4 linked regions of the Homo sapiens genome follow. The protein of the gene in region 2 interacts with the protein of the main gene of each other region in a biochemical or structural test. Each region holds a gene or a part of one and is shown on either strand. Other genes may lie near its edges.

Region 1 (7,426 bases), on a different chromosome or scaffold from region 2:
TTCTGAAAGCCAAACATTCTGCTGCAGGTAACTAATAAACCAAACCAATGTTTATTCCTTCAGGCCATACCTAAGATATTCCATGTGGCGCTGGCTGTAACAGGGAAAGTAAAGAAAGAGTCCCAGCAAATATTAAAAAATACAGAGGTTGATCTGCGAATATTTATACTTGTGTATCCTTAAATGCCCTTCACTTACACTCTCTGTAGTTACTTTGATCAAACTAATCCGTGTACATAATTTTAAAAGTCAGAGTATTAAAAGGCTTATGAAAAAGAGCAGCTCCCTACCAACACCCACAGGCGATCACTCTCGATTTTGTTTTTTGCTTTCTCTTTGTATTTACTTATTTTTCTTTTTTTAAATCTTGTGGTCAATGCACAAAATGGATAGAGTATTTCTAAAGAATGTGCTTTTACTGCTTTCTCAGTTTATTCCAGCCATTATCTATTGCCTGAAAGGTGAAGATTTAGTTTCCCCCGACCTATACCAGTAATATCACATATTCTGGTTTAATCAGTAGTATGTTATGAAATACTACTCACTGATAATTTAAATAATGCACTAAAACCAATCATACTTTTTGTGTTTTTTTTTTTTTCTTTTTTGAGATAGAGTTCTCTAAGATTGCCCAGGCTAGAGTGCAGTGGCATGATCTCGGCTCATTGCAACCTCCACCTCCCAGGTTCAAGCGATCCTCCTACCTCGGCCTGTAGCTGGGACTACAGGCATGTGCCAACAAGCCTGGCTACTTTTTATATTTTTAGTAGAGACGGGATTTCACCATGTTGGCCAGGCTGGTCTTGAACTCCTGGCCTCAAGTGATCCGCCCACTTTGGCCTCCCCAAGTGCTGGGATTACAGGCATCGGCCGCTGTGCCTGACCCAATCATACTTTTTTGTACAATCCTTAGATTTTTCCCAGCATTAGCAACTGCTTAATGTTCTATTTTTTACTTGCCTAGTTCCCTGTGTATCTACTTTTACTTTTTCTTTTCTCTTTTTTTTTGAGACAGGGTCTTGCACTGTTGTCCAGGCACGAGTGCAGTGGCATGGTCATGGCTTACTGCATCCTTGATCTCCTTGGCTCAAGTAATCCTCATGCCTCAGCTTCCCAAGTAGCTGGAACTACAGGTGTGGGCCACTATGCCCGGCTACTTTTTCTATTTTTTGTAGAGACAGGGTCTCACTATGTGAGACCAGTCCAGTATAGCTTAGTGTTGAATTTGCATGGTCTCTAGAGGCAGGCCCCTCACGCTAACTGCTACAATTTTGGGCAAACTTTTCAAACAAGCTCCAGTTTCGTCATCTGTAAAATGAGAATAATATCTACCTTTTAAGACCCAGGCTGGTCTCAAACTCCTGGCCTCAAGCAATCTGCCTGCCTCGGCCTCCCAAAGTGCTAGGAATACAGGGGAGAGTGAGCCACCACGCCCAGCCCTATTTTTACTTTTAATGAATGCTCCAAAATCTCTCCTACTATCAAGATTTTCCTCAGCCTATTTATTTTAACTGGTCTCTAATGCCGAGACTATGTATTAGTGATAGGAAGCTGAAGAATATTTACAATGATAGGAAAAGAATAAGGAGTTTTATTTTTGAAAAACAGAAATCAGATAGAAATGAAAAGCCCTGTCACTTTCAAGGTGCTATGTAGTACGACCAGCCATAAGCTTCTGTGTCATTCAGGATTTAAGACAGCTGCAATGTTACTACTCAACAGCAGTACAAAAACCAAGACAGTTCTCAATACCTGCTTTCCTGCTGCTACTCAGCTCATCTGCTGAAAGCTTAAAAAGAATAACCTTCTTGAAAGTCGTGTTTTGAGTAACTATTGCTTTGTGAGATGCAGAGTTTGACAGAAAATTAAATCCCTACTTCCATGGCTGTGCTGAGTAAAAAAACAGAAAACTCAAAGAGGAAAGCTTATTAGGTTATCCACCCAAAAGAGCATATTCGCTAAAGGAATTCCAAAGGGTGTGTTTCAGTAAAGACAAAAAAAAATCTAACACATACACAACACTAATTACTAAAAGGAAGAAATCTGAAAGCAGACACAATGTATAATGATTTTAACAGAGTAGATGTTGCTGTTCACTTCCCAAGAAAATGGGGTATAGTGTACTTAACACTGAAGCCTAATGAGAGTAACCTCGAAACTGTTACCAGCCCATCCCAAGCAGTGAATTTTAAGAAAGGTAAGTACAGCTTTAATCATTCATTTCAAACAATGTCTACTGTATCCAAAAAAACTACTATCCTAAAGGTATTTGCAAGATTTTTTTTCTTTCTTCCATTTAACTCTCTTCTTCCCAAAATTCACAGAAAATAAAATACATGACAACAGTCCAGTATAGCTTAGTGTTGAATCTTCATGGTCTCTAGAGGCAGGCCCCTCACACTTACAGCTACAGTTGTGGGCAAAGTTGTGAAACAAGCTCCAGTTTTCTCATCTGTAAAATGAGAATATCTACCTTATAAGATCCACTGAGGATTAAATTAGACAACATATATAACATACATTAAGTGCTCTGGATAGAGCCCGACATGTAATAATCACTCAAAATTTATTTATTTATTTATTTATTTATTTATTTATTTATTTTTTGAGACAGCATCTAGCTCTGTCGCCCAGGCTGGACTGCAGTGTCACGATCTCAGGTCACTGCAACCTCCGCCTCCTAGGATCAAGCAATTCTCCTGCCTCGACCTCCCAAGTAGCTGGGACTACAGGTGCGCGCCACCAAGCCTGGCTAACTTTTGCATTTTTAGTAGAGATGGGGTTTCGCCATGTTGGCCAGGCTGGTCTCAAACTCCCACCTCAGCCTCCCAAAGTGCTGGGATTACAGGCATGAGCCACTGCACCCAGCCTTCAAAAGAAATTTTAAATGTTACTCTATTTAAAACATATGAAAAGAAATGCAAATTAAAACAATCAGAGTTTTCATATACTAATTGGCAAATTTTAAAAATATTTATAAAATCCAATCTGCAATACTTTGAGTAAACACACTTTTATTTATTTATTTATTTTTCAGAAAGGGTCTCACTCTGTAGCAAAGGCTGGAGGGCAGTGGCGTGATCTTGGTTTACTGCAACCTCCGCCTCCTGGGCTCAAGGGATCCTCTCACCTCAGCCTCCTTAGTGGGGACTACAGGCACCAGCCACCATAGCCTACTCATTTTTTTTTGTAGAGATGGGGTCTCCCTATGCTGCCCAGGCTGGTCTCAAACTCCTAAGCTCAACAGATCTGCCTGCCTTGGCCTCCCAAAGTGCTGGGATTACAGGTATGAGCCACCGCACCAGGCACAAAGACTTTTTACCCTACCCGGTGTCCACTGACTCAACATTTTGAGAAGTTACTAACTGACAATGTGGCTTGGTGTTACATTATAATAATAAAATCACCACAGAACCCACACTACAGCAAGGAATTAATGAGCTCAGCTCAATCTTTTTGGTGAGTTCTTTGGTAATCTATTGACAACTTTTATTTATTTTTATTTATTTTTTGGAGACAGAGTCTTGCTCTATCCCTCAGGCTGGAGTGCAGTGGCGTGATCTCCGCTCACTGCAACCTCCACCTCCTGGGTTCAAGCGATTCTCCTGCCTCAGCCTCCCAAGTAGCTGGGATTACAGGTGCCTGTAACCATGACCAGCTGATTTTTCTATTTTTAATAGAGACAGGATTTCGCCATGTTGCCCAGGATGGTCTTGAACTCCCGACCTCAGGTGATCCGCCCACTTTGCCCTCCCAAAGTGCTGGGATTACAGGCGTGAGCCACTGCGCCCAGCCTATTTACTTTTATTATTTGAGACAGAGTCTCGCTCTATTGCCCAGGCTGAAGTGCAGTGGAGCAATCATGGTTCACTTCAGCCTCAAACTCCTTGGCTCAAGCCATCCTCCTGCCTTAGCCTCCCAAGTAGCTGGGACTACAGGTGCACACCACCATGCCTGGCTAATTTTTGTGTGTGTGTGTGTGTGGTGACCAGGACTCACCATGTTGCCCAAGCTGATCTCAAACTCCTGGACTCACGTGATCCTCCCCATCTCAGCCTTTCCAAGTGCTGGGATTACAGGGGTGAGCCACCACACCTGGCCTTGACAATCTTTTCTTTTTTTTTTTTTTTTTTGAGATGGAGTCTCGCTTTGTCACCCAGGCTGGAATGCAGTGGCACGATCTTGGCTCACCACAACCTCTGTCTCCTGGATTCAAGCCATTCTCCTGCCTCAGCCTCCCAAGTAGCTGGGATTACATGCCCCCACCACCACGACTGACTAACTTTTGTATTTTTAGTAGAGGCAGGGTTTCACCATGTTGGTCAGGCTGGTCTTGAACTCCTGACCTCGTGATCCACCCGCCTTGGCCTCCCAAAGTGCTGGGATTACAGGCCGTGAGCCACCGCGCCCGACCAACAATTATTTATTTATTTTTTTGAGACAGAGTCTCGCTCTGTCGCCCAGGCTGGTGTAGTGACGCAATCTTGGCTCGCTGCAAGCTCCGTCTCCCAGGTTCATGCCATTCTCCTGCCTCAGCCTCCCGAGTGGCTGGGACTATAGGTGCCCACCACCACACCCGGCTTATTTTTTTGTATTTTTAGTAGAGACATGGTTTCACCATGTTAGCCAGGATGGTCTCGATCTCCTGACCTCGTGATCCGCCTGCCTCAGCCTCCCAAAGTGCTGGGATTACAGGCATGAGCCACCGTGCCCGGCCCTGACCGACAATTTTGAAATATTAATACATACTCTTTTTTTTTTTGAGACAGGGTCTTGCTCTGTCACCCAGTCTGGAGTGCAGTGGGTGCCATCTTGGCTCACTGCAGCCTTGACCTCCCAGGCTCAGGCCATCCTCCCGCCTCAGCTTCCCAAGTAGCTGGGACTACAGGTGTGTGCCACCACACCTGGCTAATTTTTGTAAATACATACTCCTTTTTTTGAGATGGAGTCTTGCTCTGTCACCCAGGCTGAAGTGCAATGGCACGATCTCAGCTCACTGCAATCTCCGCCTCCTGAGTTCCAGCAATTCCCCTGCCTCAGCCTCCCAAGTAACTGGGACTATAGGCGTGCACCACCATGCCTGGCTAATTTTTGTACTGTTAGTAGAGATGGGCTTTCACTAGGTTGGCCAGGCTGGTCTCAAACTCCTGACTTCAGGCAATCCACCAGCCTTGGCCTCCCAAAGTGCTGGGATTACATGCATACCACCATACCCAGCCTCATGCTCCTTTTTTCTTTCTGAGACAGAGTCTCGCTCTGTTGCCCAGGCTGGAATGCAGTGGTGTGATCTCATCTCACTGTAACCTCCACCTCCTGCGTTCAAGCGATTCTCCTTGCCTCAGCCTCCCAAGTAGCTGGGATTCCAGGCGTGTCACCACCACCTAATTTTTGAATTTTCTTTTTTTGTGTGTTTGTGTGTGTTTTTAATGTTTGTATTTTCAAATAAAGACGAGGTTTCACCATGTTGGCCAGGCTGGTCTCCAACCTCAAGTGATCCGCCCACCTCGGCCTCCCAAAGTTCCAGGGTGACAGGCGTGAGCTACTGTGCCTGACCAATACATACTCTTGACCAAGCAATTCCACTTCCCAGATTTATCTCACTGAAACAATGAGACAAAATACAATGTGCAACATACACATATACACCCACACCCTTGATCAATATCCATGAGCTTGTGTATGGAGTATCTACATAAATACCAGGATATATCAATTTTTTTTTTTTTTTGAGACGGAGTCTTGCTCTGTCGCCCAGGCTAGAGTGCAGTGGTATGATCTCTGCTCAAAGCAACCTCCACCTCCCGGGTTCAAGCCATTCTCCTCAAATTTTTAAAGCTGCAGAAAAATTATAGTTTATCCTATTTCTGTAAGGCAAAATAATACATCAGTATGTGCTTAAAAAAAAAGGCTAGGCCGGGCGCAGTGGCTCACGCCTGTAATCCCAGCACTTTGGGAGGCCGAGGCGGGTGGATCACGAGGTCAGGAGATCGAGACCATCCTGGCTAACAAGGTGAAACCCCGTCTCTACTAAAAATACAAAAAATTAGCCGGGCGCGGTGGCGGGCGCCTGTAGTCCCAGCTACTCGGGAGGCTGAGGCAGGAGAATGGCGTGAACCCGGGAAGCGGAGCTTGCAGTGAGCCGAGATTGCGCCACTGCAGTCCGCAGTCCGGCCTGGGCGACAGAGCGAGACTCCGTCTCAAAAAAAAAAAAAAAAAAAAAAGGCTAACAATGGTTATCTCTGCTAGCGAGATCACAGAACACTTTTACTTTCTGCATGATACACCTCAATTGTATTTTCATTATTTTTACAATAGGCATGTGTTACTTTTGTAGTTACAACACAAACCAAAAAGCTTACTGACGCTCTGGAGTTAGACTTGGATTCAAATGTCACTTTCCACTTACTAATGAGGGGACACTGGAGAAGTAACTTATACTCTGTAATCCCTAGTATCCCTTAACTGGAAAATGGGAATAATAACAGCCAACTACCTTATAAAGTCATTTTGATAATTAAAAGAGATAATGGTTGTAAAATGCTTGGCAGAAGTCTCTGGCTCTCTCCAAAAGACTGAGCTAACTAATTATCCACTATAGTGTGGGCTGTGATGATTTTATTATTATAATGTAGTATAAGCCAGAGACCTTAACTAGTATTTTCAGTCTCTTTTCAAATACTAGCCTACATGTTCTAAGAGTAAATGTGGAGCTTCCATCTGCATAGGCAGATATCCTGATGAAACCATCATCAGTTGAAAATATTGTTACATGGAAATGCATTTTAATACACCTAACCTACCAAACACCACAGCTTAGCCTAGCCTACCTTACCTTAAATGTGCTCCAAACACATTAGCCTACAGTTAAGCAAAATCATCTAACACAAAGCCCATTTTATAACAAAGTGATGAATATCTCCTGTAATTTACTGACTATGGTACTGAGAGTGAAAAACAAAACAGTTATATGGGTACTGGAAGTATAGTTTTTACTGAGCGCTATTGCTTTCACACCACTGTAAAGCTGAAAAATCTTTCGTCTGAGTCTACAGACTCAGAAGAATTCTCTGGTAGGCAAATTAATGACCCTATTAAGTATAAATTTCAAGTTAAATCACTCCACATCACAGTATTAAGAATGCTAAAAAATTTACACATGTAAAAATGAATCATGCTTATAGTCACTCATTCCATTAGGCTATTCTAAATACTGACTTTGTGTATACACAGAAAAATGTAATTTTAAGTTGAATTACTTAAAGCCACACAGCAGTCTTATTATTTATGGCTGCATTTGGTAACAACAGTTTTGATCCTTAGACCATCTGTATCAAAATCCACCCATTCAGAGACTGATTCACTGTGGGGTACATCCTGGAGTTCTACCAGAACCTAATTTTAAAAAGATCTCCCAGTGATTTTTATG
Region 2 (7,426 bases):
TCCTAAATATTTCTGGATCCAAGCTGTGGTCCATGCCCAGAGAGTAAAACAGGAAGAATTCCTACAGCCATCTGTAATTCCTATGGTGCTCACCAAATTTCCCTTTTTCTTTAAATCTTCTAAAACATGGCCTTGGCCTCTATCCTTCAGTTTTACTTTCCTATTTATGTTTTGTCCTCATTTGTCGTTCAAAGCCTTACATCAATATCAAGAACCTCAGAGCATTCACAAACTGCACTTTTTATTGATTGCAACTAAATTCAACAAACATCATTATGAATTATTTCTTTGTCCGTGGGTATATTTAAAGTCCCTGGTACTGTTTGATGTTCAACACATGCTGGGGGCACATAAAACAGATATTAACTTGGCAATATAATTTGTGTTAATTTATTTTCACACACCAGGAATCGGGCACTACAAAGAAAAGCCCAAATGGCCACGGTGTTGGCTAGATGAACCATTGATGACTGTCTCATTTGTCTTAGGAACTTTTTGTAGCTTAGAAAAATTTAAGATACTTCCAGGAAAAGAGATTCTATAAATTATTGGATTATATTAGGCAATAATACTTGCTTATTTCCTATTGTGCTTAAATTTGCCAAAAATAACGCAATCAAACAACTTCCCGTCTCCCCACAGAAAACCCAAAACCTCCAAAAGCCAAGGGCAAAGAATAAAAGGAAGAGAAAATCAAACAGAATGCCTGTAAAGCTATAACAACAACCTGGAGCCTTATTTTTGATCAACGCAAGGGGATTAAAGAAATAACCTCCTACCCCTCCAGAAGGTTGCACTTGTCCACGCATTCCCTGCCTCGGCTGACATTCCGGCAAGAGACGCAGTCCCTGGGCTCCGGGCCCCAGCAGCCCTCGGGGGAGCACAAGGCATGGCAGACCTGGCCTGTGGCCTCTGCGGAGACAGAGTGGGTCACAGCAGTCAGTGACAGAGCAGGGACCCGAGGGGCCGGAGGAGACGGCACCTTCCCGGGAGGGGCCCTGTGCTCCATGACCTTGGGTGACACAGACATGCTGGCTACCCCTGAAGGAGGAGGACACAGACTGGGCTTCCCAGAGGCCGACCGTGACTGGAAGGACAAAGTAGTTGTGCTGGCTGCTGGGAAGACTGAAATGTGCCTGACAGTGGAGGACAGGTCTTCCTCCTGGTGGGAGCCAGGCACCCTGGCACCCGAGAGGGGGTGCCGTGAGTCCTCCCCTTTGGCAATGGCATCAATTAAACCAGATGGGACTCCATGTTTTCTGTGCTCCCACGGCCACTGCCCCTGCTGAAGGAACCAGGTGTGCAGAGGAGCAGGTGCTGCTGGGCACAGGGTGTGTTTTGATGGTACCCAGGGCAGCCTGGAGCAGAGCTGGTGGTGTTCTGATGACAAATCCCACAGCTGATAGGAGCCATTGGGCCATTGGCTGTGTGCTGTGTGCTAGGCACCATGGAAGGGTTTTACACACAGGAATTTCACTGAATTCTCTCAAAGCACTACGGCGTAGGAATCATTCATATCTCCATTCTATGGATGAGGAAGCCAAAGCCTAAACAGATTAAGGGAATTGACAGAGGCTCAAAGCTAGGGAGGCCAGACCAGCACTTGACTCAAAGCTGACGCTGCCCGTGGCCAAGGCCCAGCACAGGCCAGGCTCTCACCAGCTTCAAAAGCTGAGGCTCTAGAGCCAGAACAGGAAGTGTTGATGTAAAGTGCTCATTCCATTCCTCTGTGTGTGTATGTGTGTAGCTGTAGTCTTTACAGGCTGAAATGAGCAGAGAGTGACCTACAACTAAAAGGTAATATAACTAATACTAAATTTAGTTACTTACATTACAAATAATTGGTAGCCTAAACCTCAGGGTAAATTCATCCCATTGAATGGTAATGATCTGGAAAAAGTTTTAATGGAATTCACATGGTAATTTCACAGTTAGGAATCTTAAGATTTTAATTTGCTTCTTAAGGAACTGAAAAAAGTAATTTAAATGGGAATAGCCCTTCAATATTCTAAATACAAATAAAGGACCCATTAGAACCAACTCCATAAACTAAACAGAAAGCGGTGACTTACTGCAGCTGTTTTCACCTCTGTTGCTTATAATTTTGGTTTTCTGACCGGAGGTCCCAAACAGTTTTTTCCAGTTTATTGTATTTGCATAGCACAAATTTTTGTTTCCTGAAATTATCACATCTCCATCACTTATCTCCTTGAGGGAGCGTAATCCCAAGGATGTTATGTTCAGGCTGACGACTGCAAGAGAAAACTGACCACTACATTGGAGAGAAGAAAAATCATGTGGTGAAAAATTATAAAAACAATGTATCCCTGAAAACTTTGTTTCTCCAGACCACCTTTGATTGACTACAAACTGCTTTCCAATGATGGTAGGTCATGCTGTGGGAGGCACACACTGCACCTTTTGAAAACTGCAGGTGTTTTTAAAGTTCCTCCAGGCAAAAGATAGTTCCTTGTTTATTTAGTATCTTTAACCCAGTGGCAGATGGGGAGGATGAATAAAATGCCTTAATGTCATTATATTTTCTCCATTTTCATTTTGCCTGGAAATTGAGAACATATTCTAACCTCTCAAACAGCCAAATACACTTCAAAGGTGTGGGTTCATCCATCTATCCACCACCCAACCTGTCCCTCTATCCATTCATATATTTATTGAACAAACACTAGAGGTTCTCTGTCCCAAATTCTGTGCAGGTTAAATATGTTTCCTCCTCTCCAGGACGCTTGATCTGGTGGTGACACAACCCCGTAAGCAGATCATTTTGAGCCGGTGTGAAGAGCACAGTGAGTGTGGGCAACATGGAAGCAAAGAGCAGGGGCCTCTGACCAGGTCTGGGAGGGATGCCTGGGAAGTGGGGCCTTCCTCCAAAAAGCTATGCCCAAGGTTGTGAGGCCCTGAAAGCAGTAACTGTGGCATTTTCTTCACCATCCAACATGACACTAGGATGCTATTGGGTGGTCCAATGTGTATATCAGATGACTGGATGGAAGTCATTCAGACCGAAGGGGGGATGTCCTCAGCCACCTGGAGGAGCAGGAAAGCACGCGGTGGACATGAGAACCACTAGCCCCAGCCAGACCACGATGGGTGTGAGAACCACTAGCCCCTCCTGAACCACGATGGGTATAAGAACCACTAAGCCCCTGCCGGACCACGATGGGTGTGAGAACCACCAGCCTCTGCCAGACCACGATGGGTGTGAGAACCTCTAGCCCCTACAGGACCACGATGATGCAGGCTGGGAGGGCTGGGCTGGTTTGGGGAGGGAGCACAAGGCCAGAGTGCACCTTGTGGAGGAGCTGTCTGTAATTGAGAAGGAGCCACAGGAAAGAGATCTGCATTTGCAGGAAGCTCTCATCTGACCCCAGGCTGGGGGCTGGGCCAGCTGAGAGCACTGGATGAAGAGACTGATGTTCAGGTGTTGGATGGCAGGGGGTTAGAGTATCATCCAGAGGCTTCTCCTCTCCCTGCTGCTCTTCTTTCCCCCATCTTTTTCCTTTCTCCTACACAGATGAGTGGTCTCGCATAGGAGCCTGTAACCAATACCATTAGGAATTCTCCCCCACATATGCCCAGGGAGGCCAGGACACCAGGGCAGAGCCAGGTTTTCCTTGCAGGGCAGGTCTGGGGCCTCAGTGAGTCACACCCTGGAACGTGTGGCCACCCTGTCTCAGTAGGAGCTGGAATCACCAGACTTCTCATTAAATGTGAAAAGTAAGTAACCCTTATCTTGTTTAAATCCCTACAACTAAGCCAACTGGCTCATACCAGCCATCCAAGAAAATTGCTCTAAATCTCTTATTTTTATAAGAATCTTGGTCAAAGAAAGCATTCCAGAGAATTCAGAGCAAAAAGGCCTTTCTGGGAAGCAACGGTAGCCACATATTTAGTATCAGAGATTCAGAGCCAAGGGAGTTTATGGGAGGCAATGCATATTTCACGCACTCTTATTCTCTTTAATGTTGCACAGTATTATCTAGTGCTTTAAGAGTCAAGTAGGGGCAGCAGTTCTCATAACGAGGCTGCTTCCAAGGCGGGTTTCACTAAGAGATTCCCATCTCCTCCTCCACACCACTAAACTGATGATTACCATTACCATATTAAAGATGCTTGTGTGTGAGCACCTGCATGTCTATTCCACTGTCAAAGCTGAAAAAGTGGAAATTCTTGAAGAGTGGTGCTAAAAAGTCTCTCTGGTCCCTGTGATAAGATGTGCATAACCTCAATTGCATCCTGAGAAAACACCAGCTGAACAGACATGGTTAGACAGTGTGCAAAGTACCTGACCCACACGTTTTGTAAGTGTCAAGGCCGTGAAAGACAAGGAAAGACACAGGAGCTAATATAGGTTAGAAATGGACTGAAAAGATTTGACAACTAAGTGCAATGTGGGATCTGGAGTGGACACAGAAGCAGAAGCACTGGCGAGCGCTGAGAAGTCTGTGGTTTAGCGGACAGCCTGTGCCAGTGGTCGTGCAGTCTTGCTCCCTGTGCCTGCTCATGTGAGATAGCATTTGGGAATGCCGGCGAGAGATGCAGGAGCTCTGTGCCCTATCTTAGCAACTCTCCTGTTAAGCCTAATTTCCAACTAAAAAGGCAAATGTAATCTACCAGGCTTTGGCTGTGGTCAACTTACTGTTGCTTGGTCCTGCCGCGTATGATTTCTAGGTTCTCAAAGGCATGGAGGTCCGTCCTGTTTTCAGGCCAAGCCTGAATCAGCAAAAACCCTGTAAGGCAGATGAAAGACTTCAGACACACACCACGTAGGAGTTTCTTTTTTGTATGAGACATTACTCTAGACTCTCAGGGACTCTGTATTATATGAACAGTAAGTGGGAAAATTGGATTTGCTTTCTTTTTCATTATCATCTTCTCTGAGTGTACATGCGCAGGGCGGACGCAGGCCGAGCCACAGTTCACAGCTGCCTCCCGCCTTCCGCTGCGATTCCGCATGTCTCCCGCCGCCCCCCTGGCTGTGGCCCTGAGACCCCTGCTGCGCCGCGTATCTGATTACCCCGAAGAGGCTCCTGCTGCGATTATCTGCCAATTGTGGATCTGGTATCACATACAAGGAGCTTTACAAATTTTCCTTATTTGATTCCAACCTTAAAACAGTCTTGTTATTTTGGTCTAATCTTCCCATTTTAGAGAGGAAGGAAGCGGAGCTCAGGCGGCAGTCATAGACCCGAGGCTTGCCCGTGGCCCCACAAGGCTCTGGCGTCCAGTTTCAAAAGCCTGAGGCCCAGGCTGCCTGTCACCTACCCCTGTCCCCTCCCTCTACCCTCAGGGGTTATGGGCCACCAAGGCAGCTGGCTGGGGCCGGGCGGGAGGGAGAAAGCGTGTTTACACCGCAGTGAATGACCCAAGCCTGGACTTAACGTGTCCCCTTTTGCCTGCAGGAGAAACTGCACTTTTGAAAAATATCAAAACATCAGCCATTAACGGTAAAATTTCAGAAGAAATGTTTTTATTCCAAGGGAACAGGAAATATGTCGAAAAGTTCTCTCTCTAAAACACTGATTTCCCATTTATATTCATGTGATAATTCAGCTCAAACCTGTGATTTCCTTTACGGTTTTCAGAATATCCAGTTCCTGTGGATCCAGAGGAGGAGTATGTGTGAAGGAGTCACTGAAACAAACAACAGGGTGATTATTGATCACCAATCTCTACCAGTTAAAAAGGCAGATTTTGTTTTTCTTTATACAAGCAACTGAACCTGTGACTCACCCCCTAAATGCCACCGGCAGGATGTGGAGATCGCCACTGATGGAGGTGCAGTTTTTGAAGTGTTTAATATTCGTAGCATTTATGGAGAGTGAGTCTTTAAATTCACCAATACCTATTCCGTTACACACTGCAGAGATAAGAGAGACGTGTATTCCGTTCACATTTGTTGGATTAAGAATAGCTAGGGATCCACAGGCAGAGGGAAGCAGGAAGGAATTCCGGTCACCGGAACCGCCACTGCCACATCATCCTTCATTCACTCAACAAACACTGAAGGGGCTGGGGAGAGTGCAGGCGGGAAGGGGGGACACCAGGACCTATAGTACACTTTGGGGCTACGGCGGTGTAGGAGATGCCATCCCTGTCACCTCACACTGACCTTGCGTTCTCCTCATTATTTCCCATGGGCCGCTTGGAGCTGCACTGCTTCCAGCTCTGCCTTCCCTGGATTCTCCCCAGGGCTGGGCACCTGGCAGCTGCTGAGCGGGGCTGGCTCTGTGACTGTTCTCATCAGAGCCCCCCACCCCGTCACAACCTTCAGTGCCTTCCCATTGCCTAACCTAGCTTTACAGCTTTATCTTCTGTTTTAAAGAAACGATATGTATAGTTGTTTTTTAATGAGAAGAGGAAGATGTGTTCCTTTGGAGGTGGCATGAGAGCCCAGCCTCAGCAGCCGAGAACAAGCCTCGTCCGCACACCGGCGGGCTTCCTACCTTTGCGGCAAGGCCCTTCGCACTTCTTACACTTGCGGACGCCGTCTTCCTCCATCTCATAGCTGTCGGCCCCACAGGCTCGGACGCACGAGCCGTGATCTGTCACCACATAATTACCTGGGGAAGAGAGCATGAAAGGAAGGTGATGACGGTGGCACCAGGTGCTCGGGCCTCACACAGGCGGTCCAGGTCCTCTTGAGGGGTGATGGAAAGGCTCCATCCTCCTTTGGCTTTATTTACTTTAAGGACAAAGAATGAAAGGTTGCAAATAGAGAAGGAATCCCGTTCAAGAGTTTAATAACATTCTAGGCCGCAATGTGGACAATACAGGTGTTTCATCATGGCAGGAAACACTGGGTCCCTTGAGGGGCCAGCTGTTTTGCGTCCCAGCAGGCACCTCAGCCCTCTCCTCCACCTGCTCTCACCTTTAAAGTAATTCATTTGTATTAATAGCAGACTTCTGCGTTATTTTTAGGAGCTCTATGTCTTCCTTTTTTGTTTGTCTGAGATGGAGTCTTGCTCTGTCACCCAGGCTGGAGTGCAGTGGTGTGATCTCAGCTCACTGCAACCTCCGCCTCCTGGGTTAAAGCAATTCTCCTGCCTCAGCCTCCTGAGCGGCTGTGATTACAGGCGTGCGCCACCACGCCCGGCTAATTTTTGTATTTTTAGTAGAGACGAGGTTTCACCCTGTTGGCCAGGCTGGTCCCAAACTCCTGACCTCAGACAATCCAGCCCCTTCAGTCTCCCAAAGTGCTGGGATTAAAGGCATGAGCCAATGAGCCACTGTGCCTGGCCTGTTCCTGTTTTAAGTTCCCCAAGAAGATCCTCAAAAATATTTATAGGACATTGATGATTCTTCTGTGAACCATCTGCTCTTGGTATCTCAGGCTCGAAGTGTTTTCCTATGGATTTTAAAGCTCTGTTAAGCCCTATCTCAAAGATATATCTGTGTCATCACTGTG
Region 3 (7,426 bases), on a different chromosome or scaffold from region 2:
AACACACATTGAATACAGAAAATTTGCTGGAGTAACAGCTTATCCATAGGATATTCCATGGCTACCATGGTCATGTGTAGGATCTTTCCACACTATAATAATCAGACATGCATTTAAATATGCTTTCCATCTTTCAACAGAGGTACAATCAAAAAAGATAAAGGTCACTGACTAACAAAGAAAGAGGTAAAGTAAGGCAAGATTTTCTCTCCCACAGTGAAAGAAATTAAAAGAATGAGGACCTTATTTCTCAAGCAGCAGACATGCATTTAATCTGTTCCAAAATAATCCAAATCCATTTTTAAAGATGTAGAGTTACCCATGTATTAGTCAGTTTGGGCTGCTATGACGAAATACCAGAGTCTGGGTGGCTTAAACAACAGAAATTATTTTTTCACAGTTCTGCATGCTGGAAATTGAACTATCAAAGTGCTGGCAAGCTTGGTTTCTGGTCAGGCCTCTCTCCTTAGCTGACAAATGAAGGCCTCCTCACCATGTCCTCACATGACCTTTTCTTGATGCACTCATACTCCTGGTACCTCTTCTTATAAAGGTACCCGTCCTATAGGATTCACCAGCCACCCTTATGACCTCATTTAACCTTAATTACCTCTTTTAAAGGCTGTATCTCCAAATTCAGTTACATTGGTGGTTAAGGCTTCAACCTATGACTATGGGGGACAGGGGGGAACTATTAAGTCCAAAATGCCAGTTACTGCCAGCCCTGAAGTACGTTAAGTTTTATCTGGGTGCATATATGTGTGTACATTCTACGTAATGGAAAGGGGCAAGACAAAATAAAAAGCATAGTATTTACATTAAAATTCCAGCTCTATCACTCAGTTTCCTCAACAATGAGGATGATGCCCATTCTCACTATATCATTGTAAGAATTAAATAAGATAATCTATATAAAGTACCTGACATCTAGCAAATGATTAGCAAATACTGAGCCTTTGCTTCTAGTCCTCTCTAAAATTTAAAAAAAAATGAATTATAAATATTACTCAAATCTAAATATATGTGAAACAGTATGAGAATCGGATTCTGTCCCAGTTCTACCACTACCTAGTTATATGAACTTAGCTAGGGTGTAGGGTGGAGTGAAGCAAGTCACTCTACCTAAGGCTACTTCTGTATCTAAGCAGAGAAGCTTCCCTCTGTAACTAAAACTCTATGTTACACATAACAACTTGACTACAATTTGAAACACAAATGTTACAAAAGTTAATCACACTTTCTCACTGTAATAATCCTAAATGAATGATACTGAAATTTCCTTCAAGAGAATTATGGTATGAAATTTCAGTATCATTCTTTCATTTACTTTCATTCTTTCACTCTTTGGCAACTATCCTCTGAATTTGAAAAATTTACCTGCACAACGTATCTGTAGACTACTTTTATCATCTTATTTCCCTACCAGTAATGCCTCATCTTCCAACTAGACTGTAGAATTGTATATTTCTTTTTGTCCCCCATACTGTTCATTATTTTACTCACTAAATCACATAACCACTAAAACACCTAAAATCATCATACCCTAAATCCTGTAGAGATGTGACAAGACATACATAGTTATCAATAAGTTGTATCTAATAACAACAATTTTTAACGCAGCACAAAACTGAAATGTACTGCCAGTGATTTCAAGGTAACACAGAAATACCTGCATATTCAAACAATAAACAACATCCGTATTCAGTATTTTTGGTTTAAAATTAAGGTAATGGTAGCCAAAAAGCAACATCTATTGTGGAGAAATTTGACTCATTTAACAAAAGACAACTTAGCTTGCTGGGCCTGAAGGAAGAACTCATAAGTATTTGTCCTATCTCCCAGCCTGTCCCTCACTACTAGTATTCTATTATCTCGTATTACATGAAAATAAGTAATACACATGGTACTGTTACTTTGATGCCCTGAGGAAAGCTCAACTTGCTGTATTCATGCCATTTTATAGTCCCCTCCCATATTTAATGCACACTGGGTTATGTGACCAGCACTCACCATTGGAACATTAGCAAGGATGAGGAACACAGAAGCTTGATAAATACCGGCACACTAGGGCTTGGAAAGGTCTTTCACGGAACTGCCATAGCTGCCATGCTATGAAGAAGGCCAAGCTGGCTGGGCACAGTGGCTCATGCCTGTAATCGCAGCACTTTGGGAGGCCAAGGTGGCAGATCACGAGGTCAGGAGTTCGAGACCAGCCTGGCCAACATGGTGAAACCCCATCTCCATGAAAAATACAAAAATTAGCTGGACGTGGTGGCACGCACCTGTAATGCCAGCTACTTGGGAGGCTGAGACAGGAGAAATGCTTGAACCCGGAAGGCGGAGGTTGCAGTGAGCCATACCACTGCACTCCAGCCTGGGCGACAGGGCAAGACTCCATCTCAGGGGGGAAAAAAAAAAAGAAGGCCAACCTTCTTCAAGTGGAGAGACGACATGGGTAGGAAGAGAGAGGGAAATGCCCAGCCATCTACCAGCTGCTCCAGCCATCCCAGTTGAGGCACTAGATTTATGAGTTAAGAAGCCACAGTGGACATTATAGCCAACAGATCACATGTGGAGAAGTCACCATAAAGCCATACACAAATTTTAGAATCAAGGGCAAATACACAATTGTTTTAGCCACTATGTTTTGGAGTGCTTTATTATGCAGCAATAGATAACCAAAACAATACAAATAAACCAATTAGAACTGTTCCTGTTTGGCAGTAAGCAACAACAACAAAAAATGTCAGTGGTAACCATTGTTATAGTTAATAATCACTATAAAAAATCTTCTTCCCAAAAGGTACTTTTCTGGGTATTTAAGTGTTCTTAAAGGGACTCTGTTCATTTCACCAATGGCCAGTAAAGAGAGAGAAGTAAAGCAACCAGAAAGTCTACTCTTCGTTTTTCCTTTTCCCTTCCTAATTTATGGCTGTCCTTTTTAGCTTTGCCAGTAATGTTTGCCTGTTTTCCCCAGAGTGGCTAATCAATGATCCATACCGATTCTAGCATTCAACTGTGCTCTGTACCTCAGTCACTACAGACATCACCGTCAACTTCCCTCCAGACCACAGGTAACTAAAAGTTCTGTAGACCAGACTCTTCACTAAGGGTGAAAAGTTTAAACTCATCTAATTCATAATTATGTTTTCCTGATAGAATCATTAAGCGAAGAGCATCAGAACCAATAACCTCTTGCTCAGAAAATAAATTAAGTAGCAGGAAAAACATACCTGCTATTTTTCCTCAAAGAATTTACTGATCCTAATTACACAAATTTCTTTTTCTTTTAACCCTCATGACCTTTGCTCATACTTCACTCGTGATATTTATCTTAACCTAGCCTGAATCACAGTAATTGGTTTACTTAATTTCCTACTAGATCTAATACTCCCTTTTCTCCCATTGAGAAAAGGGGCATTTTACTCTTGCAACCCTTGAAGCACCTACTATATTTCTCTGCTACTTATACAAATACAGTAAAAAATATGAGTTCTGGTCATCAATCATTGTCCGTAACTAATCTTAGCAAGTCTCACCCCCATTTTTATTAAGAAACAATGGCTCACCCATATGTATAATGCAATCAGTGACAAAGTTAATGAATGCTACATGTTCTAACATTAACCTTCACCAATTATTTGACTTAATAAGAATGATTTTATTTTTGTAGAGACAGTAAAATGATTTTTTTAAAAAAGAAAGGTACTATTTACATTCCTTATTTTCTTTTCCTTAAAGTTTCAGACTTGAGAAGTCTGAATATTAGGTTCAGCATAAGATCCAGGCCAGATGCCAGGCAAATACTGCAATAGCAAAGGCAAAGCAGACCTGGTGGAGACTGCAAATGGAGACCTCAGTACCCACCTAAAAGGGTCAACCGCTACTCAGCTCTGGCAATCTAGTCTCAAGCAGGAATGGCCACCAGGTATAGCCAAGTCCTGTGGGTTTTCTAGAGATGCTAGAAGTTGAGACTTCTTAAATATGAAATCTTCCTATTGGCCGCGAGGTGGCTCACGCCTGTAATCCCAGCACTTTGGGAGGCCAAGGCAGGCGGATCACCTGAGGTTAGGAGTTCGAGACCAGCCTGGCCAACAGAGTGAAACCCCGTCTCTACTAAAAATACAAAAATTAGCCAGGCATGGTGGTGTGTACCTGTAACCCCGGCTACTGGGGAGGCAGAGGCAGGAGAATCACCTGAATCCGGGAGGCGGAGGTTGCAGTGAGCCAAGATCACACTACTGCACACCACCCTGGGTAACAGAGCAAGACTCCATCTCAAAAAAAAAAAAAAAGAAAAAGAAAAAGAAAAGAAATCTCTATTCTTAAATGGTGACAATTATCAAATATTCCAAATACTCTAAGGGCAAGCAGTATATATCTGTGGGTTGGATTCTCACCAATGGCCACTTGCTACTGCAGACTCACAGTTAAAAATCTCTACATATAACTGATGGTGCACTACACAAACAATATACCTTTACCACCACTGCCCCTCACCCTGCAGAAGAAAAAAAATGAGAACCATGAAAAGAAACTCCAAAAAATTATGGAGTACTAGTGACAAACTTCTTTAATTTAACCTTTTCTCTCTCGAAAAAGAAATCTGTTAACAGTTTTAGATATAGAAACTTTTATAGTAGAGAAATAGAGAGGAAGAATTTTTTTTATTTTTATAATTTTCTCAAAACTTTCAAAAATATTCAAATAAATAGTACAAATTACATAAACATTTCCAGCCTCAACCAAACTAATGAAAATGCTCAGTAATAAAAATGAGACTAATGATTCACCACGTACACAGAAAAACAAGGTACAAAATACTAATTAATAGTGTTAATTTATTTGCACTGGTGTATCTACATATTGTCATTTGACTCTTTTGTGATCAATAGCACAAAACTGGGAACAAAGTTGAACTAACTTCCTGACCATGGAACACTCGAGTAACAAGCCACTTGTGGACTCAATCCTGTGACCTAAACCCCCTTAATACCATGCTATCCATAACTAAGGGGACCAGTTACTCATAGTCAGTATTTAGTCCAACATTTCTTCAATACTTTTACAAAAGATAAATATTATTTGAAAATGTCTTTAAGGCTTTTCCTTCCACTTAAAAATATGAATATCTACATTCAGGAATAGGAATTTATAGAGAACACTTGAATTTCACCTCTAAAATTGCTTAACCTACTGCTAGAAGCCCTTATAAAGTTAAAATAAAATTCTTAATATAATTAATCGTGGTAGGCTTGATTTGGAGTTCAAAACATTCTGTAAAATAGTCATTTAACAAGGGAGATTCTCTAACCAAAAGAATTAGTAGACAATTTAGTGCTAGTAAAATATTACAGTTATGGGCACAGGGGACTACGTATTTATCGAACACTTACTATGCCCAAGTACTGTGACGAATACATCAAGGTATTCATTAAATCTTAAAAAAAAAAAAACAATCATATGAGGAAGGTACCATTCCTATCCCCATTTTACGGATGGGGAAACTGACCTTTCCAAGAATACCCAGCTAGTAAGTGGCAGAGTCAGGATTCCAACCCAAATCTTGTCTAACTTCAGAATCTGCACGCTTAACCACTACACTGCATTGCCTCCAGTGACTCTGGGTTGATAACTAAGATGAAATAAGAAGGAAATTTGTACTTCTCAGTGGCAAATTTTAAAAACATATTATAAATGGAGGGTATTTTTTAGAACATGAACAAGTTTCATATACATAGTCATACAATTTTTATTTCCAAATACATGTAGTAATGGTGAAAATCCCACACAATGAATTTCTCACAATTTTTCATAAGTACTCAATCATGGTGTTTTTTTTTTTTTTAGACAGGGTTTCGTTCTTGCTGCCCAGGCTAGAGTGCAACGGCAGATCTCGGCTCACTGCAACCGCCCCCTCCCTGGTTCAAGCAATTCTGCCTCAACCTCCAGAGTAGCTGGGATTACAGGCGCCCGCCAACACGACCGGCTGATTTTTTTTTTTTAGTAGAGACGGGGTTTCACCGTGTTGGCCAAGCTAGTCTCGAACTCTGACCTCAAGTGATCCACTCGCCTTGGCCTCCCAAATTGCTGGGATTAGAGGCGTGAAGCACCACCCCCAGCCCAATCGTGTTTATTACTAAAAATTTAATGGGAACACCCTGTATTTTCCCCTCAATTTTGCTGAGAACCTAAAACTACTCTAAAAAACAGTCTATTGGGCCAGGCGCGGTGGCTCACACCTGTAATCCCAGCACTTCGGGAGGCAAGTGGATCACCTGAGGTCAGAGTTCGAGACCAGCCTGGCCAACATGGCAAAACCCTGTCTCTACTAAAAATATGAAAATTAGCCAGGCCTGGTTGCGGGCACCTGTAATCCTAGGTACTCAGGAGGCTGAGGCAGGAGAATCGCTTGAACCTGAAGGCGGGGAGGGGCGGGGCGGAGCTTGCAGTGAGCCGAAAACACGCCACTTCACTCCAGCCTGGGCGAAACAGCGAAACTCCATCTCTCAAAAAAAAAAAAAAAAAAAAAAAAAAAAAAAAGAAGTCTACTAAAAACAGTTTTTTTTAACTACAATATCCTAAATATACCTAATTTAGTTATAAACTAGCATAAGACTAGATTCTTTCAGTATGAAAAGTTGCATTGTTTTTCATAACCATTGTACCAAGCATGCTATTAGCATTTAATAAAAATTGAACTATTTTTTTCAAAAGCAGTGCTGTAATATTGTTTTTTTGTTTGTTTGTTTGTTTTGAGACGGGGTTAAGCTCTTATTGCCCAGGCTGGAGTGCAATGGCAGGATCTCGGCTCACTGCAACCTTCGCCTCCCGGGTTCAAGCGATTCTCCTGCCTCAGCCTCCTAAGAAGCTGGGATTACAGGCACCCGCCACCACGCCAGGCTAATTTCGTATTTTTAGTAGAGACGGGGTTTCTCCATCTCGGTCAGGCTGGTCTCAAACTCCGGACTTCAGGTGATCCACCCGCCTCGGCCTCCCGAAGTGCTGGGATTACAGGCGTGAGCCACCGCGCCCAGCAAAATTGGAATTAACACTCCCAGAATACTCCCAGGGACTCTGCATTACAAAGACATTAAAATATGAACCAAACTCTGACGAAAGACTTGAATCCTTTATTGAGGAATATAAAAAGTGGAATACTACATCCCGTTGGCTGGCATAAATATGACTAACTTTACTTTTCCCCTTTAAGTATCAAAAGATGTAGCCTTAAGTCAAAAATGGATTAGGGTAACAGAATCTTTTCCTAATTAGTTTCAGAACTTTCTAAATGCTCCAAAGAAGCTTATCCAAAAAAAAAAAAAAAAAAAAAAAAAAAAAAAAAAAAAGGCCGGGCACCGTGGCTTACGGCTGTAATCCCACCACTTTGGGAGGCTGAGGCCGGCGGATCACCTGAGGTCAGGAG
Region 4 (7,728 bases), on a different chromosome or scaffold from region 2:
ATGTTTCCTAGATGATCAAAATTCACCAGACTTCTGTATTTTACAGTCCCTGTTCTCAGATTAAGTTGAAATATTTTTGAATTATAATTCATATGTGCAATATCCTAATATCACCTGTAAGTAGGTATTTCTTTGAGGGGGAAAATCTATAATACAGTATATAAATTTTCCAGGAAACTAGAAAACATTTGGGGGCTTTATTTTTAATTTAGAAAAAAATTATATCAAAGAGAATAATGCATCCTTTCCCAAACCCTAAACCTTTATATTTTACTATTGGTATCTAGTCATATGATAAAGATGGCCCATTTCTATCTACCAGAAATCTTTTAAAGTAAGGATACCGGTAGAACTATTCAAAAATTCTAAATAACGCCAAATTAAGATTGTTTTCAGTTTAACAATTTTTCAATAAAATAAGTTCGAGGTTTTAAACTCAACATGGGCAATGCGGGAATTTGCACATGTGCGCCAACAGAGGGCCATGTGATAATTTGAATCAAACATGCACACACACTTTAGCATCTGGTTTTCTTTCTGCGTGATTTCAAACTTCTCCAGGACAGCAGAGGACAATGCCTGCGTTTATGTTCACATCACAGCACCATTCATGGCTGCTAATGAACAAGGAACCAAAACATGGATGGTACAGAGCCCTAATTAGTCATGCCATGCACCCCTCAACCCATCACTGCAACCCCTTAAATTTGAGGCAACACAAAGTAACCCCAAGACACAGACAAGCTCTGTGCAGATCCAGCCCTTTGACTATGAATACTACTGCTGATGCTGCCAGTAAGTCACAAACCTTACAGCAACAGATTGTCGACGCAGAGCCGTCTTATTTTCGTACATTCATCATTATTTTGCCACATTTGACCTTTCAAACTTGATGCTGGCCTTCCTTCTTTAAAAAGCAAAAGCAAAGTTCTAAGCAAAGTGATTAAAACAAAAATTTAAAGCCATAAGTTTGAGAATTCTCCCTCAATTTGAAAACTACTCTGTTTAATATGACAGGTAGAAAAAGCTTTGCCAAGGTCTATTTGTCTATTTGAAATGTAGGCTTTTTAAAACAGCAATTATGCTAACACCCCAGAAGTAAACACAACCTCAAAGCTGTCAGGGATTTTTGGTTTGGTTTGTTTTTTTCTTTTTGTTTTGGCCCCTGGTTATATAATTTAAATAAGCAAAACAAGAAGAATATTCAGTACCTCTTAAAATAAACTCAACCAAATATGCATATATTATGCTCATCTATACCCCTTTGGTAAAATATAATAATCCATAGTTTGAAGGTTAAATTAAAAAGCAGACTGAAAAGGTGAAGAAGCCCTCTTTTAACAACAATGGCCACATTCATCTGTAAGTACTTTTTATATAGTTAAAGGCAATCCACAAAGTTAAGTATTTCTGTTAATATTTTGGTTCCGAAATTACCAGACACTGCATTTTACCTGAGGATGTGTTCTATTTAATTTTTACACTGGAATCTGCAGCCAATATTTACGGAACAGACATCCTGGGGGTTTCTCAGTGTTATTGAGGACACGGTGGGGATAGAGTTTGTGTCTCATTTCTTTCTCAATACAAAGCCATGCCTTGGAGTGGCAGGATTGAAATACTGCAACTTCCATCCTTAACCCCTGTCTGCTCGGCTGTGGAGGCTGTTAAAGCTCTGAGCTGCCCAACCGGCAGAAGGAAATAACCGCGTGGCAGATTACTTGAACTGTGCTGAGCATTTTTCCTTAAATATCATAACATGCTTGCATAAGGGTGGAATTTTATTGACTACATCGTGATTTTATCATCTTTGTGTTGGAGGAAAAAACTCCTTTCCAGCCTGTGGCTCCAAGCGCAGCGCCCTAGTTCCCTTTTAGCACATTTAAATGGAAGACTACAGTCACCAGAAAAATAGTCCCAGAATTCTCATTCCGCTGCTGTAAACCAGAACCTTTCCTTAGGGAATGAAAGACAAACCCCAAGAAAACCTGGACTGGGTGAGAAAGTAAAGCCCGTCGAAGAGAAAGCAGCACAGCATTTGGCCTGCTCTGCAAGGAGCTGGGAATTCTTGCTGCGGGGGGCAACAAGATACCCACCCTCCCGCCGGGGAAGACACAGCAGGAGTAGGGCCGCCACTCCGTGCATCTCTCCTCCCGGGGGCTGCCCAGCTCTCCCCAGCGCGTTTCCTAGATACTAGGCAGGCCGGACCCCCGCTGCCCAGGGTTGGGCGCCCATGACACTGGTCAGACATCTGGTAAGCCAGGTGGCAAAGGCGTGCCAAAAAAGTGGAGCCTAGGGAAAACCGGGACGGAGCGGGCCACCCGAGTGGTAAACCTTTTCCCAATGGATGCGGGAAAAGCGCATTTGTAGTTCCCTCCTCACCGCTGTCAAGCGAGCTGATTGCTAAGGAGTGCGCATTTGCTTGCCTCTAACGTGACAGTCGCGGGAGCGCCCCGCACCCCGGGCTTCAGGGAATGAAGGAGTCTGCCCCGAACTGGCCCCAGAACCCCCAGCCCCCAGGGCGGCCCGCGCCCGCACCCACCTTGACCACGTAGGTGACTCCGGGCCCCAGCACCTGGTCGCTGGCGTGCGGCGCCCCCCGAGGGGGCCTGGGCAGCGGCTCGTCGCCGGGCCGGCCCTTCCTGGCGGCGCTCATGGCCGGGGCGCGGGGCGCCGAGGGCGCACTGCCGTCCGGGGCGGCCAGGCTGGGCGCGCTGCAGCTGCCCGAGAGCCGCGCGCCCGCCCGCTCCCGGGCGGCCGACGACAGGCCGCGGAGGCCCGAGCTGGAGAGTTTCAGGTGGGACACCTTGTGGAGCAGGTGGCCCAGGCTGCCGGGCCCATCGTCGGGCGCCTTGCGCAGCGCCTCGCCGGACACCAAGTAGGGAGCCGCCGCCGGGGTCGCGCGCGCCGCCGAAACCTTGCCTCCGCCGCCGCTCACCGACAGGCTGTGGAGAAGGTCATCGACCGATGTCACCGAGTCATTCCTGAAGCGGTTATACTTGGTGCGTGGAAGCATGCCCCTCCGTGGGCTCGCTGCATCCGCCCGGGCGCTGCTGGTGCCGGCCCCGGCGCGGGCTGCCGCGCATAGCAGGCGAGCCACTGTCCCCGGAGCGGGACGGAGAGTGGGGGCCCCGGGACAGCCTTCTGGAGAACGAGAGCAGAGCAAGAGGATGGTGCCCTCCCACCGTTAAAAGCCAGCACAGCGGCGGCCGCGCAGCCCCGGCCCGGGAGACCGCTGCTTGGGGTTGCACGTTTGCTTTGCAAAAGTCATAGTTGCCTCTGATGGAGCGCCCAGCTGCTTGGGGCTGCTCACAGCAAAAGCATGACTCACTCTGAGAGGAGACCCTTCTCAACAAAGGCTCGGTGAGCACTGCAAATCACTTCCTGTAGCAGAAGAAAAAAAAGGAAAAAAAGAAGAAAAAAACGACATCCACCCGCTGACAGCACACTATAGCCAATCAATTCTCAAATTTCCTTTTTCTACCTTCCCAGATATTTCCTTCCAACCTTTGATTTTTCACCTTCCCATCCCCCGCAATCTGCATTTGTGCCAAAGGTAAATCCAATCCAGTTCCTTCAAATCGTCAAATGAACTTTCTGAAACCCATTATTCTGTTAGGTTTTGCTCGTCCCTGCTCAGCCCATCTGTGTGAGCCTGTAAAAGTGTCTAACAGCGATGCGTTAAAATGTGACGAAGGCTTTTTAAGAATCAGATCTTCAGCGAATCCTGATGAATCTTGACTTGGAAGGCAGCAGGAATTTTTAAATAGAAAAAAACAAAAAGGATATTCACCCCCAGGTGACTGTAAAATACCAATTTCCTGGGTTTTGCTTTTTCTTTTCAAATTAACAGAGCAGCGATGACAAGTGTCTTTGTGGCAATGCAGTTCCTCAAAAAAAAAAAAAAAAAAAAATCTGCATATGAACTTCTGCACAGTGCCAATCAAGGGGTCTTCCCTGCTCATTTACAGCAGTCTTTCTCAGCCAGGGTTAAGTTGAATATCCACTTCCAAAAAAGAAGAGTGCTTCTTTCACGAGTGGCAACAGGCTCCAGAAATCCATTCCAAAAAAGGGGCTGCATTTGAAGCTTTAATCCTACTGAATGTGTTTAAGCTCTGGAAAAACGCCTAAGAAATGCTACAAATACATTTCAATGTTCCTTCAGTTGCTGCTTGCAACCCTGCAGTCAGGAAGGAAAAAATGCAGCTGTTCTTATTGCACATCAAATCCACAAGGAGGAAAATATGCCTTCTTTTCAGGAGTCAGGCTCGGGCTTGCAAGTAAAATGCACAGGCCTTCTTCCTCTCAGTTAGGAGAGCAAGGCTTTCGCTGTCCCCAGAGGTCTGCCCGAGACTGAAGCCCTCTGACTCTTGACCTCAGTGGGCTCTGCCAGGCTTCCTCATGCATTAGGATCACCTGCTCCACAGTGAAACACTCACTATCAAAGTTTTCCCGCAACTTCTGAGCAAGCGAATAAATTCAGCTCTAGCACACTCTCAGGTCACCCTGAGTCCTCTCACTCCCATGACCGAACATGTGGGGCACGTGAGGTCCTGAGTCTTGAACCCTGCTCTATGGAGCAGAGTTTAATGAGCGCCACTCATGGCGGGCGAGCGGGTGAGGCCAACCCCTAGGACGCAAGAGCGCAGAGGAGCCGCGGCGTCCCCGGTACAGGAAACGCGTCCCCACGGCTCGCCTCCTGTGCCGCAGCCCTAGCAGAACAGCTACACGGCACTCATTTGTTCCCTTTCCCTAGCTTGCATAGCAACAGCAATTGCACACCCCATAGATGATTTTGATGGTTATCAGAGTCCTCCCCAGATCTGTAGCGAAACAGCCCTATCATTCCCAAAGCGAGATCTTCATTAGATGCAGACAAAAACCGCAAAATGTGAATGAAATGCTGTTTGTGTGAATGAAAAGGCTAGCGAGCGAGCCAGCGTTTCTGTGAATGAAGCAGGGCCTTGCAGCCGGTGCCAGGCAATCCCCTGGGCTCCAGCGGCCTCAGCCAATGAGCGGCCGCCCCGATGACTCATTCAACAAAGGCTTGCTCAATAGTGGAAGATTCCATTTCAATCAAAGGCGGGATCTTTTATCCAACGGCAGTGTGGGAAAAAAAAAAAGAAAAAGAAAAAAAAACACCCAGCCGGATTACAAAGATACCGGGAGGAAGAGGCCAGCTGCTATGGAGAGGAAAAGCTAGTTTTACAAGGGAATTCAAGATCCCTTGGTCAGGTCTAAGTGTGAAGAGGGTCTCTCTTGGAGGTGAGCTGTGCCCCTAAACTTTCATTCAGCCGTTCATTTACATCAAGGAGCAACCATGAATGTGCCAGTCGTTCAGCTTTTATTATGAATGTACATTGAATGCACGTTCAAAACCTAGGTTCCTAGCCCTTGATTCTTTTTTTGTAAAAGGCATGTAGGACACCTGTACACGTTCTGAGGCTCCAGGGAGGAAAAAAAATCCAAAGCTATGTACTTAACGTTTAGCCAACAGGAGACTTTTATTTCTTTTATTATGAGGCCAGTGGAGGGAAATTGGTCATTTTAAAATATAAATAGCAACATAAATTTACTATATATGAAAAGATATATAATCAAAGACAGAAATTAATATTCCAAGAACACAGTAGTACGGTAAAACCTCACTTACCTGGAAAATAGTATCAACATTTTGGAACGTAGCAGAAAGATGGAAAAAGAAAAACCCGAAGGCCTCTCAGCATCAAAAGGAGGCTGTGCAGCCCACACAGAAGCTCACACACCCTACTCATGAGAAAACCCTTTGCCCTTTCTGGGGAGCTGTTCATGTTTATTTTAGACCCTGTACCAGAAAGCCCACATATCTTCTTGATCAACATAGAGACAGATGAGAGAGGAGACCACTGGGACAGAAAATGCTAAATGTAAATGAAATTTTCTGTTGCTGGCTTGCTTGATAGCCATGGAAGGAAGCAGGAAAAAAAAACTCCATTTTAAAGTCAGCCTTGAGATTCACCAAAGCCAGGCAGTCTGGGGCAATTTACAATGAGAGCCTTTCCAGTATGTTGTGGTTTTTCTTTTTTAAATCAATGCTTAAACACGTATTTGCTTTCTATGGCTGCCGTAACAAATGACCACAAAATCAATGGCTTAGAATAACACAATTTATTATCTTCCAGTTTGTAGGTAAGAAGTCCAAATGGGTCATGCTGGGATCCAGCATGGGTGTGGGCCGAGCTGGTTCCTCTGGAGGCTCTGAGGGAGAATCCACAAATTTCTGAGAAGGTGCCATGAGCTGGGCCCTGGGGAAAGTGGTTTTGCCTTCTGGAAGGCAGAAGATCTGAAATTAATGTTATAACCTAGTTAAGACTATGTGAATTTTGTAATATGTGTGAGATACAAAAACTTGACCAAAGGAGTGAGCTTGTCCTGAGGATGCGGAGGTGACCCCTGACCCCAGTGGAGGCATCCTCCAGGTGACTTCACAGGAGGAAACTGTGTGGGCAAGGGCTCCAGGCCTGAGCAGTCCAGAGTCTCCCAGAATCCCTGGTAGGTTGGTTGGGTTGGTGAGGAGGTCAGGAGGCTGGGCACTCATAAAGGCTTAGAGGGGTGATGAGGTTTGGATGTGTGTCCCCTCCAAATCTCATGTTGAAATGTGACCCTCAGTGTTGGAGGTGGGGCCTGGTGGGAGGTGACTGAATCATGGGGGTGGATCCCTCATGAATAGCTTAGCACCATTCCCTTGGTGATAAGTGAGTTCTTGCTCTGAGCTTACATGAGATTTGCTTGGATAAAAGAATATGGCGGCCTGGTGTGGTGGCTCATGCCTGTAATCCCAGCACTTTGGGAGGCCGAGGTGATGGATCACCTGAGGTCGGGAGTTCGAGACCAGCCTGGCCAACAGGTGAAACCCCATCTCTACTAAAAATACCAAAACTAGCCGGGCATGGTGGCAGGCCCCTGTAATCACAGCTACTCGGGGGGCTGAGGCAGGAGAATCGCTTGAACCCGGGACGAGGAGTTTGCAGTGAGCCGAGATCGCACCATCGCATTCCAGACTGGGCGAAAAGAGCAAGACTTTGTCTCAAAAACAATAAAAATAAAATAAAATAAAATAAAATAAAATAAAATAAAATAAAATAAAATAAAATAAAATAAAATAAAATAAATGTGGCGCCTCCCCTCTCACTCTCTTTATTGCTTCTGCTCATGCCATGTGACACTCCTGCTCCGCCTTCACCTCCTGCCACAATTAAGGCCCTCACCAGAAGCCAAGCAGATGCCAACACCATACTTCCTGTACAGTCTGCAGAACCATGAGCCAATTAAACCTCTTTTCTTTATAAATTACCCTCTGGCATTCCTTCTTAGCAATGCAAGAACAAATGGACACAAGGGGCTTGAGAGAGGGTCACATAGTCAGGTTTGCCTTTTATGGAGACCACTTTGATAGTGACTTGGGGTGGCTCTGGGAAGTTGAGAGGAGGTAGGAGACAACAGGACAAGTTAAAAAGAACAAGGGCTTGAATGAAAGCAAGAGCAGTGGAGCTGGAAAGAGAGGGATGGATTCAAGATAGCTGGGAAGGTAAAGGATCTGTCTCTGTGATGAGGAAGTGTAAGAGAGAGCGAGGCTGGGTAGGCTGTCTGCAGCTAGAAGCTAAGACAGAGTTTGGAATGCAAGATGCTTATTAGAGATCAAGCTCCACAGAAAGCAGGGGAGGCTGCAGGAGGGAGCAGAGGCAGAAG

What was found.
Region 1: the proteins of EGFR (region 2) and GRB2 form a complex in vitro, tested with the Homo sapiens proteins (12 studies listed by BioGRID and IntAct, with this or other methods).
Region 3: the proteins of EGFR (region 2) and RASA1 form a complex in vitro, tested with the Homo sapiens proteins (4 studies listed by BioGRID and IntAct, with this or other methods).
Region 4: the proteins of EGFR (region 2) and SHC3 form a complex in vitro, tested with the Homo sapiens proteins (4 studies listed by BioGRID and IntAct, with this or other methods).

What each region holds. Positions count from the first base shown.
Region 1 is NC_000017.11:75,395,253-75,402,678, forward strand, and holds part of GRB2 (growth factor receptor-bound protein 2), read right to left. Parts: intron 161-7,426; exon of another isoform or gene 1-160. UniProt on the Homo sapiens protein: Non-enzymatic adapter protein that plays a pivotal role in precisely regulated signaling cascades from cell surface receptors to cellular responses, including signaling transduction and gene expression.
Region 2 is NC_000007.14:55,154,985-55,162,410, reverse strand, and holds part of EGFR (epidermal growth factor receptor isoform a precursor), read right to left. Parts: intron 6,582-7,426; coding exon 6,465-6,581; intron 5,879-6,464; coding exon 5,752-5,878; intron 5,653-5,751; coding exon 5,579-5,652; coding exon of another isoform or gene 5,568-5,578; exon of another isoform or gene 5,472-5,567; intron 4,749-5,471; coding exon 4,658-4,748; intron 2,273-4,657; coding exon 2,073-2,272; intron 913-2,072; coding exon 780-912; intron 1-779. UniProt on the Homo sapiens protein: Receptor tyrosine kinase binding ligands of the EGF family and activating several signaling cascades to convert extracellular cues into appropriate cellular responses.
Region 3 is NC_000005.10:87,270,570-87,277,995, reverse strand, and holds part of RASA1 (ras GTPase-activating protein 1), read right to left. Parts: intron 1-7,426. UniProt on the Homo sapiens protein: Inhibitory regulator of the Ras-cyclic AMP pathway. Stimulates the GTPase of normal but not oncogenic Ras p21; this stimulation may be further increased in the presence of NCK1.
Region 4 is NC_000009.12:89,175,445-89,183,172, forward strand, and holds the start of SHC3 (SHC-transforming protein 3), read right to left. Parts: upstream 3,375-7,728; 5' UTR 3,017-3,374; coding exon 2,543-3,016; intron 1-2,542. UniProt on the Homo sapiens protein: Signaling adapter that couples activated growth factor receptors to signaling pathway in neurons. Involved in the signal transduction pathways of neurotrophin-activated Trk receptors in cortical neurons.